Linked DNA regions of Homo sapiens: region 1 is linked to region 2. Evidence: fine-mapped expression QTL. A gene starts in region 2. The other region holds a variant in brackets. All regions are shown on one strand. Distances are from middle to middle.

The links.
Region 1: its variant is fine-mapped to the expression of LASP1 in blood mononuclear cells (TOPMed, PIP 0.97).

What each region holds. Positions count from the first base shown.
Region 1 is chr17:38,890,693-38,899,014 of GRCh38, forward strand. LASP1 (LIM and SH3 protein 1) reads left to right here. Exons shown (of 7, transcript NM_006148.4): 4 at 7,720-7,827. Among named protein-coding and RNA genes, the nearest start is that of MIR6779, 20 kb to the right of the region's middle. RefSeq lists enhancers at 2,208-2,781, 4,868-5,389, 5,390-5,911, 5,912-6,433, 7,662-7,771 and 2 more. The variant G/A (reference allele first, on the strand shown) is at 4,779.
Region 2 is chr17:38,866,191-38,874,512 of GRCh38, forward strand. It overlaps LASP1 (LIM and SH3 protein 1), which reads left to right and starts at 3,868. Exons shown (of 7, transcript NM_006148.4): 1 at 3,868-4,068. The coding sequence starts at 4,000. TRC-GCA2-2 (tRNA-Cys (anticodon GCA) 2-2) reads left to right here and starts at 1,455; the gene lies at 1,455-1,526. TRC-GCA4-1 (tRNA-Cys (anticodon GCA) 4-1) reads right to left here and starts at 3,173; the gene lies at 3,102-3,173. RefSeq lists a cis regulatory region at 1,247-1,860, enhancers at 1,519-2,121, 2,122-2,722, 2,298-2,477, 3,968-4,117, 5,130-5,731 and silencers at 2,078-2,177, 3,598-3,907, 4,428-4,527.

The DNA of each region.
Region 1 (8,322 bases), 25 kb after region 2:
CCACTTCCTACCTAGAGGGGGTTGGAGAGGTGTGGGTGTCTATTTGAGCCCGCTCTGGGGCTCCCTAAAGCCTACCTCCTCCAGGAAGCCACTCTCCCCTCCCTCTTCCCCATTCACACTCACCCACAAAGGAGGGGTTTGGGGAGGACCAGGGAATTTGCCCCTCCAGGTCATGCCAGTCTGAGGCTGGGCAACCAACCCTCTATAGCCGCGTCCCAAACCTCCACCCACTGAAGGGCAAGGTGTGAAGGGGGCCCTGCCATGGGGGCACAGGATAGGGGGCTGTTCCGCCTCTGTCTCCTTTGGCTTGACTTTCCAGAACACTGCTGAGTGGGAGGTATGTGCCCCTGTAGGAGGGGAGGACGGGTTCCAGGCCTAGGGAGAACTTGGTCTTTAGGGGACACGGAGGAATAAGCAAAGGGTCTGGAGTCCTGAGAACAGAACAGCTGACCCACCCTGCCTGGGGGTGCGAGGGCTCCTGGGACAAACCTGGCCAGTGATGAGGTGGGGTGGGGTGGGGCGGGGCTTCAGCCGATGAAGGATTAGGCGCGAGAATACATGTAGGGGAATTTACCACGTGGGCAGCGCGCCCAGGACCCACTCAGGATCGGGAGAAGACTGCAGAGGTTCCACCCGGGCCACAGAGGGGATCTCTCCCAGTTCCTCCAGAGGGGACTCCTGCTGCCTGATCTTGATGTGACTGCCCGGGTCCATCAGGGAGAACCGACCCTGCCTTTTGTCAGGCTTTCCATGCACCCTCTCTCAGCATCCTCCCAGCAGCCCTGTGAGGAAGGTGCTATCTTCCCCATTGTTACAGATGAGGCGACTGAGGCCCAGCGACTTTGAGGGACTAGCTGAGGTCCTGCGGGTAGGAGAGGCAATAATAATATTCACAGCTGACGATGGAGGGCTCAGTGCTCCCGGCGTGTGAGCTCGTTTAATCCTCACCCAGCCCTGTGCAGCTGTAGCATCACTTCACTTCAGAGAAGAGGAAATAGACACTGGCAGCTTTGAATGTAGGTTTGTCTAACCCAGGGACTATCCACTCCCCAAGAAACAGTCTCTACCTTAATAATAAACATGATAGTTCCTTATGCTGTTGAGAAGTTTTGTAGTTTAGGGCTGGGAGCCATGGCTCACGCCTGTAATCCCTGTGCTCTGGGAGGCCAAGGTAAGAGGATCACTTGAGCCCAGGAGTTCGAGACCAGCTGGGGCAACATAGCAATACCTGGTCCCTAAAAAAAAAAACGAGCAGAGATGGTGGTGTGCACCTGTGGTCGTAGCTACTTGGGAGTTTGAGGCGGGAGTATCACTTGAGCTGAGGAGTTGGAGGCTGCAGTGAGCCATGATCGCACCACTACACTCCAGCCTGGGTGATGGGGTGAGACCCTGTCTCTAAAAAAAGGAAAAGCAAGAAATTGTGTAGTTCAGCAAGTGCCTTTAGTTAGTTCCCCTGTTTATCCTTGACTGGGTTCTGGGAGAAGGTAAAAGACCCAGCGTCTCTGTCTTACAGATAGGGGAACCGAGTGAGTGAATGCGGATCCAGGATTTGGGCCCTGGTCTTGTCACTCCCAAGTCTGGGGCCCTTGATGCTGCACAGCCCTGGTAGGGCCTGAGGCTCACAGAGGAAGAGAGCAGCAGCTCACACCTGCCACCCACCCACCTGCGGCACAGAAGCTGAAGTTACTAGGAAGCAGGGAACACCACAGCCTGCCTGGCCATATTTTACAGATTCTAGCCAGGCCCTGACTCCTGCCTTCAATTCCCTGCCCTGTGGAAGGGCCATGGGGGCCAGAGGTGGAGGGGCTCAGAAGGACCTCGGAGAAGAGGTGCTGGGAGCAGATAGCAGGTCTTTGGAGACACACACACACACACACACACACACACACACACACACACCCTTCTCAGGGGAGAAATTCAAACCCCTCAGCCTTTGTCAGTTCCACAAAAGCGTGGCTGCAGCTCTTTTTGCCCCGGCACCCTATCCCCGAGGGGTGGGGTTTGAGGAGGAAGCACCTCCACGTTGTTCCCCCTGCCCAGGATGGGCAGCAAGTGGGCAGGGCATGCTGTTGGCAGGGGCTGCTTCTGCCCCCCACAGGGGAAGCCAGCACCACGCTCTGGGTTTGGGGGCTCCTGTCCCTGGCCTGTGCCCCCTGCTTCCCAGGGTCATAGCCTGCTGGGTTCCCGGGGGGGCCTCTTGGGAGATGAAAATGGCGGTCACTCTTCATTAGGGCCTCACTGAGGGCCAGAGCGTGTCCGTGTGTGTATGTGTGTGTGTGTGCGTGTGCACGCATGCACGCGTGTATGTGTGTGTGTGTGTGTGCAAGCATGCACGCATGTATGCGTGTATGCCTGACTTTGTTTAATCCTTACAGCCACCTGATGAAAGAGGGGCTCTTATTATCCCCATCATACAGATAGGGAAACTGAGGTTTACAGAGGCTGCCCTGCTTGTGCAGAGCCCAGGGACAGGGGCAGACATCAAGTCCCATGACCTGGCCCTGGAGCCCGTTGCTCTGAACAGTGCTGATGGCACAGGCACCGAGCCCTGTGCTCCCACCCTGCAGGATGCACCAGTCAGCAGCAAGTAGGATGGGCTTGTTGGAATGCAGATTCCTAGGCCCCACCCAAGGGACTTCTGCTTGGCAGCTCTGGGTGAGGCCCAAGAATCTGCATTTTGACTCCCCCGTGATTCTGATAAGGACTTTTGGCCCCACTTTAAGAAGCTTAGAGATGGGTCCATGGGCAGGAGTGTACCGACCCTGTTTGTATGCTCTGAGGGGTGCCACATTAGGGTAGGGCTTTGCACTAAGGGCACGGCTCTGTTCCCCTGAGGTGGGGGTCCTCGGGGGTTGGGGGCTGAGGGCAGGATAGGCAGGGGAGGAAAGGGTACTGCCCTTTTTGCAGGCCTGTTCTGTCTCCCTTCCCACCGCCCACCAGCTGTGTGGTCTGAGACTGGCCTCAGACTGTCTTTCCTCTCATAGCTTTGCTTCCTCACCAGTAAAATGAGGACAGCAAACCCAGTTGCCTCAAGCTGGGGGCTGGGCCTGATGCTTTGAGGCTTGGAAGGGCTGAGCCGGCCAGGCTGGAGCAGTGACGGGTTCTGGTTCCTGTGGCTGCCGTGGGGGCAGAGCTGGAGAGAGCTGCCTGCGGCTAGCAGGAAGGGAAGGGGGAGCCTCTTCTGCTCACCCAGCTTCACCCCACGGGGTCAGCTGGCTTCTCTCCATGCCCCTTCTGGGCCTGCCTTGCCCTTCCCTGTCTCTGGGAAGCTGCCCAGGCTATTTCAGCTTTATTTATTTTCCCATCTCTATATTGGTCTCCAAAATGGCACTTTGGGTGTCTGGGACACCTGGAGCCTCCCCTGTGGAGGAGGTAACCACAGAACTGTCCAGAAATGACCCTCTCGGTGGTCCTGCCCAGGCCTGGCTGAGGCAGGGGGCTGGCAGCTGGACCCCCAGCCCCCCTTCTCACTTGCTGCTCCTATCCCACCCCCAGGCTGAGCAGAGGCAGTGGCTTTGGGGTGGGACTGAGCTGGAGGTGTCTGTATGGCCCTGAGCCCAGGCAGAAGTGCCAAGTGCCAGTAGACTGTTCTTCCATTTTTTCCTTCATCAACTCACCTTGATGGGGTCATGGGAAATTACAGGGGGGTTTCTATCCTCCTCGGATCTTGTAAGCAGCACGGGTGGTAGAGTATCACTCTTACCCGAACTAGCTGGCCTGAGATTGAATCTCGCATCTGCTGCCACCAGCTGTGTGACCTTGGGCAAGTTGCTTAACCTCTGTGCACAGTGCCTTCGTCTGAATAATGTGGATTACCTCTCTCCAGAGGGTGGTGTGAGATAGGAGGATATGTTAAGCATTTAAAGATTCCTGACGTGGAGTCAGCATTCAGTGTTTGCTACTACTGTTCTCCCGGAAAGGAGAGGAAATGGAACTTGGACATGAAGAAGCTGGGAAATACACACAGCAACCTTTTGACCATGACTTCCAGCCCCGGCCCTTTCCATCAGCTCTCCTCTCCATCTGTGTGTGTCTAATTTTTTTTTTAAATTTGTATTTTTTTGAGACAGGGTCTCTCTCTGTCTCCCAGGCTGGAATGCAGTGGCGTGATCTTGGCTCATTGCAGCCTTGACTTCCCAGACTCAAGCGATTTTCTCGCCTCCACCTCCTGAATAGCTGGGACTACAGGCGTGCATCACCATGCCCGGCTAATTTTTGTATTTTTAGTAGAGACAGGGTTTCGTCATGTTGCCCAGGCTTGTTTCAAACTCCTGACCTCAAGTGATCTGCCCACCTCAGCCTCCCAAAGTGCTGGGATTACAGGTGTCAGCCACCGCGCCCTGCCTAAATTTTAAAAACTAGTGTTTCTTTTTTGTTAGAAGGGGATGGGTTACAAAGTATGTTGGCCCAACACATGGTAGGCACATAATAGTGGAAATTGTATTTCGCTCAATAAATTTTGTATTTTTTTAGAGATTTTTATTAATTTTTTTTTTTTTTAAATAGAGATGGGGTACTATGTTCCCAGGCTGGTCTCGAACTCCTGGGCTCGAGTGATCCACCTGTCTTGGCCTCCTAGACTGCTGGGATTACAGACATGAGCCATTTTGTTTTTTAAGTCCAGCCTAATTTTTGTGTTTTTTTTTTAGACGGAGTTTTACTCTGTCGCCCAGCCTGGAGTACAGTGTCACCATCTCAGCTCACTGCAACCTCCGGCTCCCAGGTTCAAGGAATTCTCCTGCCTCAGCCTCCCAAGTAGCTGGGATTACGCCCACCAC[G/A]CCCGGCTAACTTTTTTTGTATTTTTTTTAGTAGAGATGGGGTTTCAGCATGTTAGGCTGGTCATGAACTCCTGACCTCAGGTGATCCACCCACCTCTGCCTCCCAAAGTGGTGGGATTACAGGCGTGAGCCACCGTGCCTGGCATAATTTTTGTTTTTAAGTAATGATCCTTCTTCTTATATTGGGTCATCAAGGCAGTTGTTTTCCCAATTATGCTGCTTTGTTTGGAGATTACGTGTCTGCATTCAATTCATTCATGATCCAACAAATGTTGATCTGCACCTCCTGTCTGCTGGGATGAGAAGCAAGATAGATCCAGGGAGAACAACTAAGAACTGACAGAAAAATTAGAGTTTCACGGATGGTGGTTGTTTGGGTGTCAGGAGCCTCAGATGTCAGTCAGTCCTGGGCCTGACAGCAGAGTTTCCAAAATGGGAGCCCAGGTATCTCCCAGGAGTGGGGTCCTCTGGGAGCCCAGGCATCTCCCAGAAGTGGGGTCCTCTGACCGAAGCGCTGAGTTGCATCCTGGCCTGAGCGACAACTGGGTTGTGACCTTGGGCAGGTCCCTTCCTCCACAGGGACCCCCACAGCACCCTGGTGAGCCATCCTAGACAACAGGGGCAAGCACTCCTGCCAGGGCAAGAAGGGAGCCCTGAAGAGGGGCTCTGGGCTGGGCCCTCCCTACACCCCTGGCCCCCCACCCTTCACTTCTGCCACCCCTTCCATACCCAAAGACCTTTCAAAGAGCCTCCCTGTCTTGATTATCCATAGTCAGGGTCTGAAGGTGCTTTAAAATGGTCACAGACTCCAAATGGGAGGGATTTTAGAGATCAGCTAGCCAGCTCCCTTCAGGGGACCCAGAGAGGGGAACTGACTTGCTTAGAAACACACAGCAAGGTGGTGCTGATCCCAGGCTCCCTCCCTTCTCAGCCCCTACCCCTCACCCCTACCCTCTGTGGGCCTCCTATGTTAGCAGTGAAATGAATGATCCTTCCCCAACAGGGAGGGGGAGGCAGAAGCAGTTCCCGATCCTGGGAACCTGCTGATGTCATTGCAGCGTCGCCATGGCGATTATTCCCCTGGATTAGGGGCCTGACCCTTGCAAAGCCAGGAAGCAGGGGACGGAGTGGGGGACTGGCACTCGTTCAGCACTTCATTGCTGACAGAGCACTTTCACACTGGCCCTCCACAGTGCGCTGCTGCTTTAGAGCCACTGTCTGTATCGTGGGTTGGAGTGACTGGCGTTATGGTCCCCATTTTACAGATGTGGGAACTGAGTCTTGAGATGTGAAGTCGTTGGCCCAAGATCACTCAGAAGTGGGAGACTGAGCCTGCGTTAGTGCTAGCTCCGCCTGGCTTTGTGCCCAGACTTGGTGATAAGAAGCCCCCTCCCCATATTATACCTGATTTCTGTCACAACTCTTTTACAGATGAAGAAACCGAGGCCAGGGGCTTGAGATGCAGGGCTTCTGTATCTGGAGCTACATTTCTCTGCCTCTGAGTGCCCTACCTTCCCCGATGCCCGCTTCCCAAAGGGCCTCCCACTAAGAGTCACCGTGCTGGCCCAGGGCTTCCAGGACTGAGGAAGAGCTGGTGCTAGGCAGGTTCTGGACTCTTGGGGTGGGTTGGTGCCTCTATCCACTGCATTCACTTCTGAACTAATGGGGAACAGCACATCCAAGCCCTTCTTGTCTGGATCAGAACAGAGAAGGAGAGGGAACCACATGGATGAGTGACTGGGGGCTTCAGGAGACAAACAAGGACTCTGACCCCCACAGGCATGTGCAGAGGACCTGACAGGTGTGGCCGTGGCTGCATGCGCATGCGCAGTCGCTCCAGTCCAAGCACAGCTCGGTGCTGCTGCCAGATGATTCCCTGCCAGGGAACTGCCTGGGTTTGTGTCCTGGGCTGACCTGTGTCCAGGACAGTGCAGCCCCCGTGGAGGAAATCCAAGCAGCTGGTGGGGTCTGGAACAGATGGCTGATGAGGTGGACAGTGAAGTCTCTGGAAGCCAAGGAATAGTTTCCTGTTCCATGAGTTTTCTCAGCCTCATTCTGTTCTTCAAAACCCTCAGGGGAGGACAAGCTGTTCCTCATATTTCAATTCCTTTCGTGCCAGGGAAGTCCTTTCTGATGTCTGACTTGAGTCCCTCTAGTACTGTGGTGGGGTGGAAGGGTTCTTCCCTGGAGCTTGGAGACCTGCTGAGATGCTGTCTGACCCCCGCTGCTTTCCTCCCCTCCTATGGCGGTGGCCTCTGAAGCCATCCCGGCAGGCTCCCAGAATCCGCGGGGCCTGTCAAAGGCGCACTGATGGAGCCTTCCCTGGGGCTGTCTCACCACCCTCCTTTCTGGGCACCAACTCTGTCCTTTGGCACAGCCCTCACTCAGCTGGTTGCTGAAAAGCTCCCCCAGGCGTAGTGGGCAGGGCCACATCCTGGCTAACATGAGGGCTGGGGCCACCCTGGGAGCCCTGGAAAGAACCTTTTTCCTATAAGCTTCCAGACAGGATGGGCAGGGAGTGAAGGGTCAAGAGTCAGGCAGATGAGGGTTTGCACTCTGGTAGTGCCGGACATTGACTGCTAAGCTCTGTGACCTTGGGCAGGGGACTTTGCCTTTCTGTGGCTCCGTTTCCTGATCCGTAAATTGGAGCTGTTAATTGCGTGGCTATATGTATGGTGGGATCTAAATGAGATGGTTCATGTAAGGCCCTGGACTCTGTGCCTGCCATTCACTGTGCACCAAAGACTTGGTAGTGGCTTATTATTACGAGTCTAACACCTTTTGGCTGAGGCCTCTGCTTTGAGTTGGGGACTTCTGATCAGGGTCTTTCTGCTGACTCCCTGTCCCTGTCTCCTGACTGGTTGCTGCCTCAGAGGGGCCCCAAGCCGAGGCCCTTTCGGCTCCTGGCCTGACTCCAATCCCTCTTCCTCCCCTCCTGCAGGTGCGCTACAAGGAGGAGTTTGAGAAGAACAAGGGCAAAGGTTTCAGCGTAGTGGCAGACACGCCCGAGCTCCAGAGAATCAAGAAGACCCAGGACCAGATCAGTAACGTGAGCTCTTGCCCTGCCCTGCGGCATCCCTGCTGCCCTCTGTTTGGTCCCCTTCCTGCCAGCCTGGCAGACGCAAGCCTGGCAGATGTGAATGAGGCCAGTGCCTCCACTACCCCTGCCCTCCAGGGTGGGCCTGGGGAAGAGCTTGGGGTTCCCAGATGCCTCTTCTCTGTGTACCCCCAGACCACCAGCACGCATAGCATTTTCTTCTTGAAGGGACTGTATTCTGTGGGGGCCTGTGTGCTAAATCAGCCCCCACTCTCTCTGACTGTTGTTCTTTTTTCTGGATATCGTGGGTATCGGTGAAGACTGCATGTCTCATCTTAGCACAAAGGTCAAAACTGGGGGGCGGGGAGCACCTGGCCTCCCCTGGTCTGCGCCTGGGTGCTGACATTGCAGTCATTTCCGCCCTTCCTTGGCCTCCTCCCCCACATCAGCCTGCTCTTCCTTCCTGTGTAAAAACCCCAGCCAGCTTCACCCGCCAGCCCTGCACCC
Region 2 (8,322 bases):
TCATCCACGTTATTGCATATTGCAGGATTTCTTTCTTACTTAGTTTTTTTTTTTTTTCTTTTTTGCAACGGAGTTTCGCTCTTGTTGAGAGCGAAACTTGTTGCCCAGGCTGGAGTGCAATGGCGTGTTCGTATTCTTTTTGGAGAGACCAAGGAAAAACTTTATCCAGTTTTGCAGGAGGTTGTTCTCTGACTTGCTAGCGGGGAGAGATGAGTGGGATTGTGGATAAAGAATTGAGCCTAGGCCGAGTGTGGTGGCTCACGCCTGTAATCCCAGCACTTTGGAAGGCCAAGGTGGGCAGATCACCTGAGATCGGGAGTTCAAGGCCAGCCTGTCCAACATGGAGAAACCCCGTCTCTACTAAAAATACAAAATTAGCCAGACGTGGTGGTGCATGCCTGTAATCCCAGCTACTCGGGAGGCTGAGGCAGGAGAATTGCTTGAACCTGGGGGGCACAGGTTGCGGTGAGCCGAGATCGCACTATTGCAATCCCGACTGATCAAGGAGAGCGAAATTCCGTCTCTGGGCAACATAGGGAGACGGCCTCCTTCACCCACCACCTGCCCCCATCTCCACAAAATGGAAAACAAACAAACAAACAAACAAAAATTGAACCAAGCAGGGGTGCGGTGGCTCATGCCTGTAATCCCAGCACTTCGGGAGGCCAAGGCGGGCAGATCATGAAGTCAGAAGTTCGAGACCAGCCTAGCCAACATGGTGGAACACTCATCTCTACTAAAAATACAAAAATTAGCTGGGCGCGGTGGCGGGCGCCTGTAATCCCAGCTACTCGGGAGGCTGAGGCAGGAGAATCGCTTGAATCCGGGAGGCCGAGATTGCGCCACTGCACTCACTCCAGCCTGGGTTACAGAGGAAGACTCCGTCTGGAGAAAAAAAAAAAAAAAGAACTGAACCTAGACAAAGCAGATTGGCACCTAAATTCACACGCTTTTCAAACTGCCACCACGTCTTGGCCTAGCCTTTTTTTTTTTTTTAGATGGAGTCTCGCTGTGTCGCCCAGGCTGGAGTACAGTGGCATGATCTCGGCTCACTGCAACCCCCGCCTCCTGGGTTCTGGGTTGCAGCAATTCTCCTGTCTTAGCCTCCTGAGTAGCTGGGACTACAGGCTCCCGCCACCGCTACCGGCTAATTTTTTGTATTTTTAGTAGAGACGGAGGTGGGGGGGGGGGGGGTGGGTTTCACCATCTTGGTCAGTCTGGTCTCGAACTCCTGACCTCGTGATCCGCCCGACGCGGCCTCCCAAAGTGCTGGGGATTACAGGCGTGAGCCACTGTGCCCGGCCTATCTTGGCCTAGTCTTTTAATTTCTCCTTCCTCATTGGTAATTTCAGTATAATCTAGCAAAGAGACACTAATTTTGAACGAATGGTGAAAGTATGAAAATTTTGGGATCAATCGATGTAAAAACAATTTACCAGAGAGCCACCGCCAGAGGGGGTATAGCTCAGTGGTAGAGCATTTGACTGCAGATCAAGAGGTCCCCGGTTCAAATCCGGGTGCCCCCTCGGGTTTCTTTAAGTTTTTTTCACAGCCATCCAGGAATAACCTGAGTCAGCGAGTTCTGAATGCAAAACTCACGGGAGGTGTCGTTTGTATCTTCCACCTACCTAATTTTCACCTTGAAAGGATTCCCGTACCCTAGAGGGAGAGAACAGCAACCAGAGGCTGCCTTTAGGTGGATCTGAGCCCTCATACCCCAAGTGGCGATAAGCGCACCAGTACTCTCAGTTGGAGAACAAAGGCGCGTATCGATTTCCATCTCCGATGCCCATTGGTTTAACGTTAATTATAATTTGTTTTGGGGTAAAAAATATGTCTTGGACGGGGCAGTAGTTCGTACTTGACTATGAAAACTAGGAGAAGTAATCCAAATTCAGAGGTTTTCATATACTCGCGAACTCGAACAGGACAGGGCACACAGATAGAAGGTAGACAGCGAGCAATTTTCCCCTCTTCCTTCTTGACTCAGCTCATAGGCAGGGCTTTGGCTTGATAAGCTATACATGGAAAGTTCAAGGCCTAAAGGAGAGGTAAAACTGGTTCCTCCTGGGTTTTGCACGGAACCGCAGCTCTGCTGATCTGTGATCTCTCTGTTCAGCCTAGAGATACAGCTCACAGTAATAGGAGCCAGGAGAAAAAAATGCGCGTTTCCCCGGGGTCCGAGGAATGACACAACCACATTCCGGGTTTAAAATATCGCAGCTGCCCTTTGACCCAGGCAGCACGCCTCTTCCTTTCTCCTTTATTTTTCCTTTTTTTGGGCAAAACCTAGTCGAGGGGGACGCCCTTGTCTCCCGTCACACTTACCATTTTCCTCCGGCCCAACAGTGACCCTGTCAGGCACGCAGCCAGCAGATACTTGTCCCCATCTTTAGGTTATGAAACTCCATGGCCTTTTATTCTTACTTCAGTGGTTCTTAAAATGTGGTCCCCACACCAGCAGCACCAGAGGCACCTGGAAACTTGGTAGAAATGCAAATTCTCGGGGCCCCCTTACAGAATCAGAAACTAGCAGTGTTTTAACAAGCCCTGCAGGTAATTCTGATGCACGTTCAAATTTGAGAAACACTGTGTTCGTTTATCTCAGTTTGCACTGGGTTATAACTTTACTTTTGTACATTAATAGTCAAGGATGAACACAGCACGTCCATGTCACCATTAATACAGAAAGTTGAAGTTGGAGAAGGGCTGTGTCTATGGGTTTCCCTCGCCTGACCCACCCTCCACCCCCAAAAGGAACGCCAAGTTGAGGCGTTCCCCTGTCTCCCTACCCCCATTGGAAACATCCTGTCCCTCAAACCCGGCACCTCGAACTGTCTGACCCATCTGAGGCTGGCGCCCGTGGCCGCAGAAATCCCTACACCTCTGGCGCGAGTAATGCGGTCGCGCAGCTTTTATACCCACCCCCTCCTCCCGCTGAGCACAAAGTAAAACCGAAAGATTTCTGCTAAGGTTGAAAAATGAGGAAGATACTTTTTCTTTTCTTTTTTTTTTTTTTTTTAGTCAGGACCCAATGTTAAAATGTGAGTCAAGAATGAAAAACAGATGGTTAACAAGGGGAAGGAAAAACCAAGCCATTGAGGGGGCACCCGGATTTGAACCAGGGACCTCTTGATCTGCAGTCAAATGCTCTACCACTGAGCTATACCCCCGCGCCTCTACAGCGCCTGGAGGCGGCTCCTTGGGTGCTAAGCATTGTTGCAGCTGCTACACTGTGAGTAGTGGTGTAACAGAAGGAGAAAGGAATGCTGGAGAAAAAGGGGTCAAGCTGAACGCAGACGGTGCCCGCATCCGGGGAACCCCGGGAAGGTGCACTGCAGGGGCTCGAGAGGGAAGCACTAGCCCGGGCCCGGCAGCGCGCAGGGTCCAAGAGGGAGGGACGGGTTCCGCCCCACAAATGTGGGAAAGGGTGTGGGCCGGAAGAGAGCTAAGAGGGGCAGGGTAGGGGGTCCCCGTTCGGTCCGCAGATTCATGCCGGGTAGAAAGTCCCCGAATGCGGTGAATCAGTTCCAGCGTTCAGGAGGATCCAACCCCACCCTCGACGGGCTTGAGGGGTTAGCCCGCCTCCCGCAGCCCGGGCGCCCCAGATGTGCAGCCTGCTCGCCTCTGCGCCGCCTCCGGCTGGGGAAGGGCCCTGGGCACCGGGCGCAGTCAGCCTGAGAGCGCTGAGGCGCCAGCACCGCGGGCCCCGCCGTCCCCCCAGGAACCCGCCCCCGCGCAGCCCCACGTCGCCCGGAGAGCGCGCCTCGCTGCGCGTGCCCTTGCCCGCGCCCGAGGCGCGTGCCCGCCCCAGTGCAGCCCCTCCTCCCCGCTGTGTTTATTAGGGGAAGGAGGGCGGAGGCGGAGGCCAGTTCCCCAGCTCCAGCCGCCGTCGCTGCTGCCTGTGTAGTTGCAGCCGCGGCCGCCTCCCGCCAGCTCGCCTCGGGGAACAGGACGCGCGTGAGCTCAGGCGTCCCCGCCCCAGCTTTTCTCGGAACCATGAACCCCAACTGCGCCCGGTGCGGCAAGATCGTGTATCCCACGGAGAAGGTGAACTGTCTGGATAAGGTGAGCCCGGGACCGGGAGACGCGTCTTTGCAATCCCCCGCAGTGCTCCGAATCCAGGGAGGAGAGAAGGGCCGGGTCTTTGCCGCCTTATCCCCGCGATCCCAGGAGAATGGAGGGAGGGCGAGCGGGCGGTGTCATGGGGTGTGGGGACACATCCCAGTCTGAAAACCAGGAGATCTGGGGCGAGGCGGGAAGTCCACGCGTAGCGGGCAGCCGCTGCTGGAGAGGGGTGGGCTCTGTGTCCCGGGGTTGGGAGGACGGGAGAGGAGCAGGGAAGTCAGGCGCCGGGGTGTGTTGGGGGAAGGTTAGGGGTGCAGTCCCGCCCCCTACGGCCTGGAGAGTGAGAAGAGACGGCCGCTCCCTCTCCGCTCTGCGCCGAGCGCCAAGTAGGCGGAAGCGCGGGGCGCTGGTGGAGGGGGCGGGGGGGCGGGGCAGAGGCTGGGGGGCCCTGCAAAACCGTCCGCTCCGGCGGGGGTGGCCTGGCTTCCTGGCCTGGCGGGGCGGGGGCTATCAGCCTGCGAGTGTGTGGCATCTGATGCGGGGGGTTTTGGGTAAGGACCCGGGCTCTGCCGCAAGAGCCCCGTTTTTGAACGACCTGCACCCCCTTGGATTCAGTCGTTAAAGGACTCGCAGACCTCCTCCACAGCTTCCCAACCCCCACCTCCAATTAAAAGCCAACTCCCGGTGCTGGGCCGTCCAGCCTGAGCCGGGTGGGGTTGGGTGGCAGAGTAGGGTGGGTGGAGGGTGCTTAGCTGAGATCTCCTGAAATTGTGCTCAGAGCCAGGAGACCGTGTGGAAGAACAAAGAGCTAACTTTTCAAAGCAGGTTTCTCCAATGGAGGGTGGGGTTGGCTGAGTTCTGGGGAAGCCGAGGAAAGGGGGAGGTATTGGGGGGAGGGGAGGGTGGCCTTGTGGAGATTCAGTGTCCCCTGGGGGCCCTGTCTCCCCAATGCTGGACTTGTTCATCTGGTTGCCATTAGACTTTTGGAGGGGGGTTGGAGAGTAGAACTGGGTGTTTCCCGTACAGTTTAGGGTAGGATCCTGTTCTCTTGTAAGCTCCGTAAGATCCTAAGGTAAAACCTGCCCCTCTGCATCCCCTCCCCAGTCTGGAGGGGAGGCCTCTGTGATTTTGTGCCCTTCCTCACCGCGTCTTTCATCCACCACCCAAAGCTGGCTCCAAGTCCAAGTATTCTGTCCTTTCCATCTGAACTGGGAGGGCTGGGAGGACTGGATGGAAGAGAGGTGCAAGGGTGGGAACACTAGATGAAAGAGGGGTATAGAGCCCTGGGGCCAAGTTCATTACTGACCTGGAGCCAGGTTTTGTTCAGGAGAGGATAGTTTATTGGACACCTTATCTCTCCCCTCCCCCTTGGTGTGTGAGCTTCCTCAGTGACCTTTGGCCTCTGAGTCAGCGTGAGGAGGTGGGGTTGGAGGTTCTGAAAGATATTTGAACTTGCTCTTGGGGAGTGTGGGCATATGGGGCCGCTGCTGTGTCACTGTTCCTCCTGGTCCTGGGCTTGACTGGGCAGGAGGAGAGGAGGGGGTATATTGTGGGCACGAGGAAAGTTGTTGATCTCCCCATGACCATGCCAGCCGCTGTTGGGCAGGACTTGAGCTTAGAGCTATCAGATAATGAAGTCTCCCCTTGAGAATGTACCTGTCCTTGCACACTGGGGTTTCGCCCGCCCCTCGTGGCAGAGATTTTGGCCTCTGCATCTTGAGTTCCCTGTGGTCCCCTTCTTCTCCACAGTCATGAATTGGGAAGAGGCAGTGGGCACTTGACCCGTATAAGGAAAAAGCAAAACATGAAGGCAGGATTGCCACTCCAGGAGTTGGGAAACTGGGTCCTTGTTCCAGGTCTGCTCCCACCAGTTTTATGAATGTCTCTAGGCCTCAGTATTCACCATCTGTCAGATGGGTATGATGATGTCATTTCCTTAAAGGTGGGGCAGTGCACTAAAGTCCCTGAGTGCTAAAGAGGGTGCTGTATAGACTATGCCCTCCCTACCTCTCTGGGATGCTCTGTTCAGCTCCACACCACTCCCCTTGGAAAGACCTTCAGTGCCGTGTACCCGAGGGGAGGGGAGCAGGGATGGGCAGGGTGCCCTCCCCAGTTCTCTTACCCTAGCTGGAAGAGGACGTTCAAGTGGGGGTTGCCCAGGGAAGTGGGAGTTGGTGATTCCTTCCTCTTTTTAGAACTCTCCCTATAGGAAGTGGCCCTGGAGAGACCTCGCCCCCTGTACTGAGCAGGAGACCTGAAATATCCAGGTATCAGACCTATTCCTCTCCACCTGCTCCAGGCAGTAAGGATAGGACCAGGAATGGGGAGCCAGTGCCTGGAGGATGCTGGGCTGTGACCAGGGAGGAGGGGAAACCTTCAGTCCCATAGGCAGCTTCAGTCCCATAGTTGCTAACCAACTTCCCAAGGCCTCCCATTTACAGCAAAAGAGTCAAATTAGACTCACCCGTTTCTCTACAATCCCCCATGGTACTCAGCCCACTACGTGGCCCAAAGCACAGGGTGTGTCCTTGGTTTCAGCCTTTTCTCCTCCCTGAGCCTTATCTCCCAAAGGCATAGGTGGGTAAAAACCTTGTCACCTCTGAAGGCCACCCTGCCCCCAACCTGCAGTACCCAGCATGCTTTGCAAGCTGGATAAATATGTATTGCTGATGACAGTGTTTGAGGAAGGAGGTCGAGATTTGCTTCTCCAGAGGACTTCTGGGATTAGAGCTGGGGGAGAAACAGGGTGACCTCATTTGCTCATTCAACAAATATTTATTGAGCACCTACTTTGTGCACCTGCTTTGTATCTAGGGAGCTGTGTTGTCAAGAACCTCGCCACGTCCCTCTTTCCTGGCTTGCTTCCCCAGGTTTCTGAAAACAGGTGGAGGTAGAGGATTGGTCTGCTGCCAGTTCCCCTGGAATCCCCTGTTAGGGTGGGCTCTCTGCCTCTGCTTGTCTCAGCGCTCCCTCCCCACTCGAGGGGGTTGAAGTCCTCACAGCTGTGGTGCCCCGTTTTGCTAGCTGAAGCTTAGAGTACCCCACCATCATCTTGTGACCATCCCTTCATAATAGCTACTAGTTATCACGATATGCTGGGCTCAGTCTTCACAGCAGCCTCACAAAGTAGGTGTATTCGCTCTTGTAAACGATGCACTCCATAAATGGAGGCTCAGGTAGCCCATGTGGCTCATCTCCCTCTCTTAGAGCTGAAATTCACATCCACAGTTCTTTCTGCTCAGCTCTTCTGCCAGTGTGTTTGCAGAAAGTACTTTTATTTATACATATTTATATTTTATTTACATCTCATTTGTGCCAAAAGTAGGTCCCATCCCTTCCTGACCCTATCTGGAGGAATGCTCTGGGCCTGGGGTCTTGTATGGGGGCGTGGGGCCACTGGGAATAATCCTGTCCTCCTCGGAATTTGTGGAGGTGCAGCAAAGATCTATGCCTTTAAGCCAGCGGGTCAGGTGGCCAACCAAGCTAGGCTGGTGCCCCGGCCAGGGTGGGGCTGGCATTGCCTCTGCAGGAGGGAGAAACTGTAACCCTGGGCAACAGGAAGGGAAGAGATGGTCTCATAATCCATCCCTGAGTCATGGCCACCCCAGGTAGCCTGGGTTCAGAGGCCAAGGTGCCAGGCTGCAGGCACAGTGACACGAAGCTTGCCACATCCCCCCCAACCCAGAGCCACAGAGGGACAGGCTGTCCCAAGTGAGGGGTATCCTTGCAGGCTTCTGCCCCTACCAGCCTGTTTACCTTTCTTTAGAGTGGGTTGCAGGTAGGCAAGGGAAGATCAAGATGACCCTGCCTTGGAGCCTCGGATCCAGGCTGAGAGGCCTCTAACAGGCAGCAGAGGTAGGGTCTGTCTGGTTTCTGTGAACAGGGAAGCCATGGACTTTGCAGGCAGCAGGAAGGGGCAGAGGTGCATGCCTCGAGGTGCAGTTTCCTTGAGTCCTGAGGCCCAGGAATGCTTCGCTGAAATCATCTTGCCTGGGGCCTTTAAAAGAGGGGGGCTCTTGCTCTGGGACAGAGCCCATGGGGCAGGGCAGAGGCAGACGGGGTCACTGTGGGGTCCTCTGGACATATTTCCCTGACAGTGTCCTTCCCCAGACCCCATTGAGACAAGGCAGGAGTTCTTTCATCTTAGGGTCCAGGCTTGGCTCACAGCGGTTGTGGAGGGACTGGCCATTTTCTGCCTCCCCTCCCCACAATTTTCCTACCCCAAAAAGGACACAGTGGAAGGAGCTGGTGGGT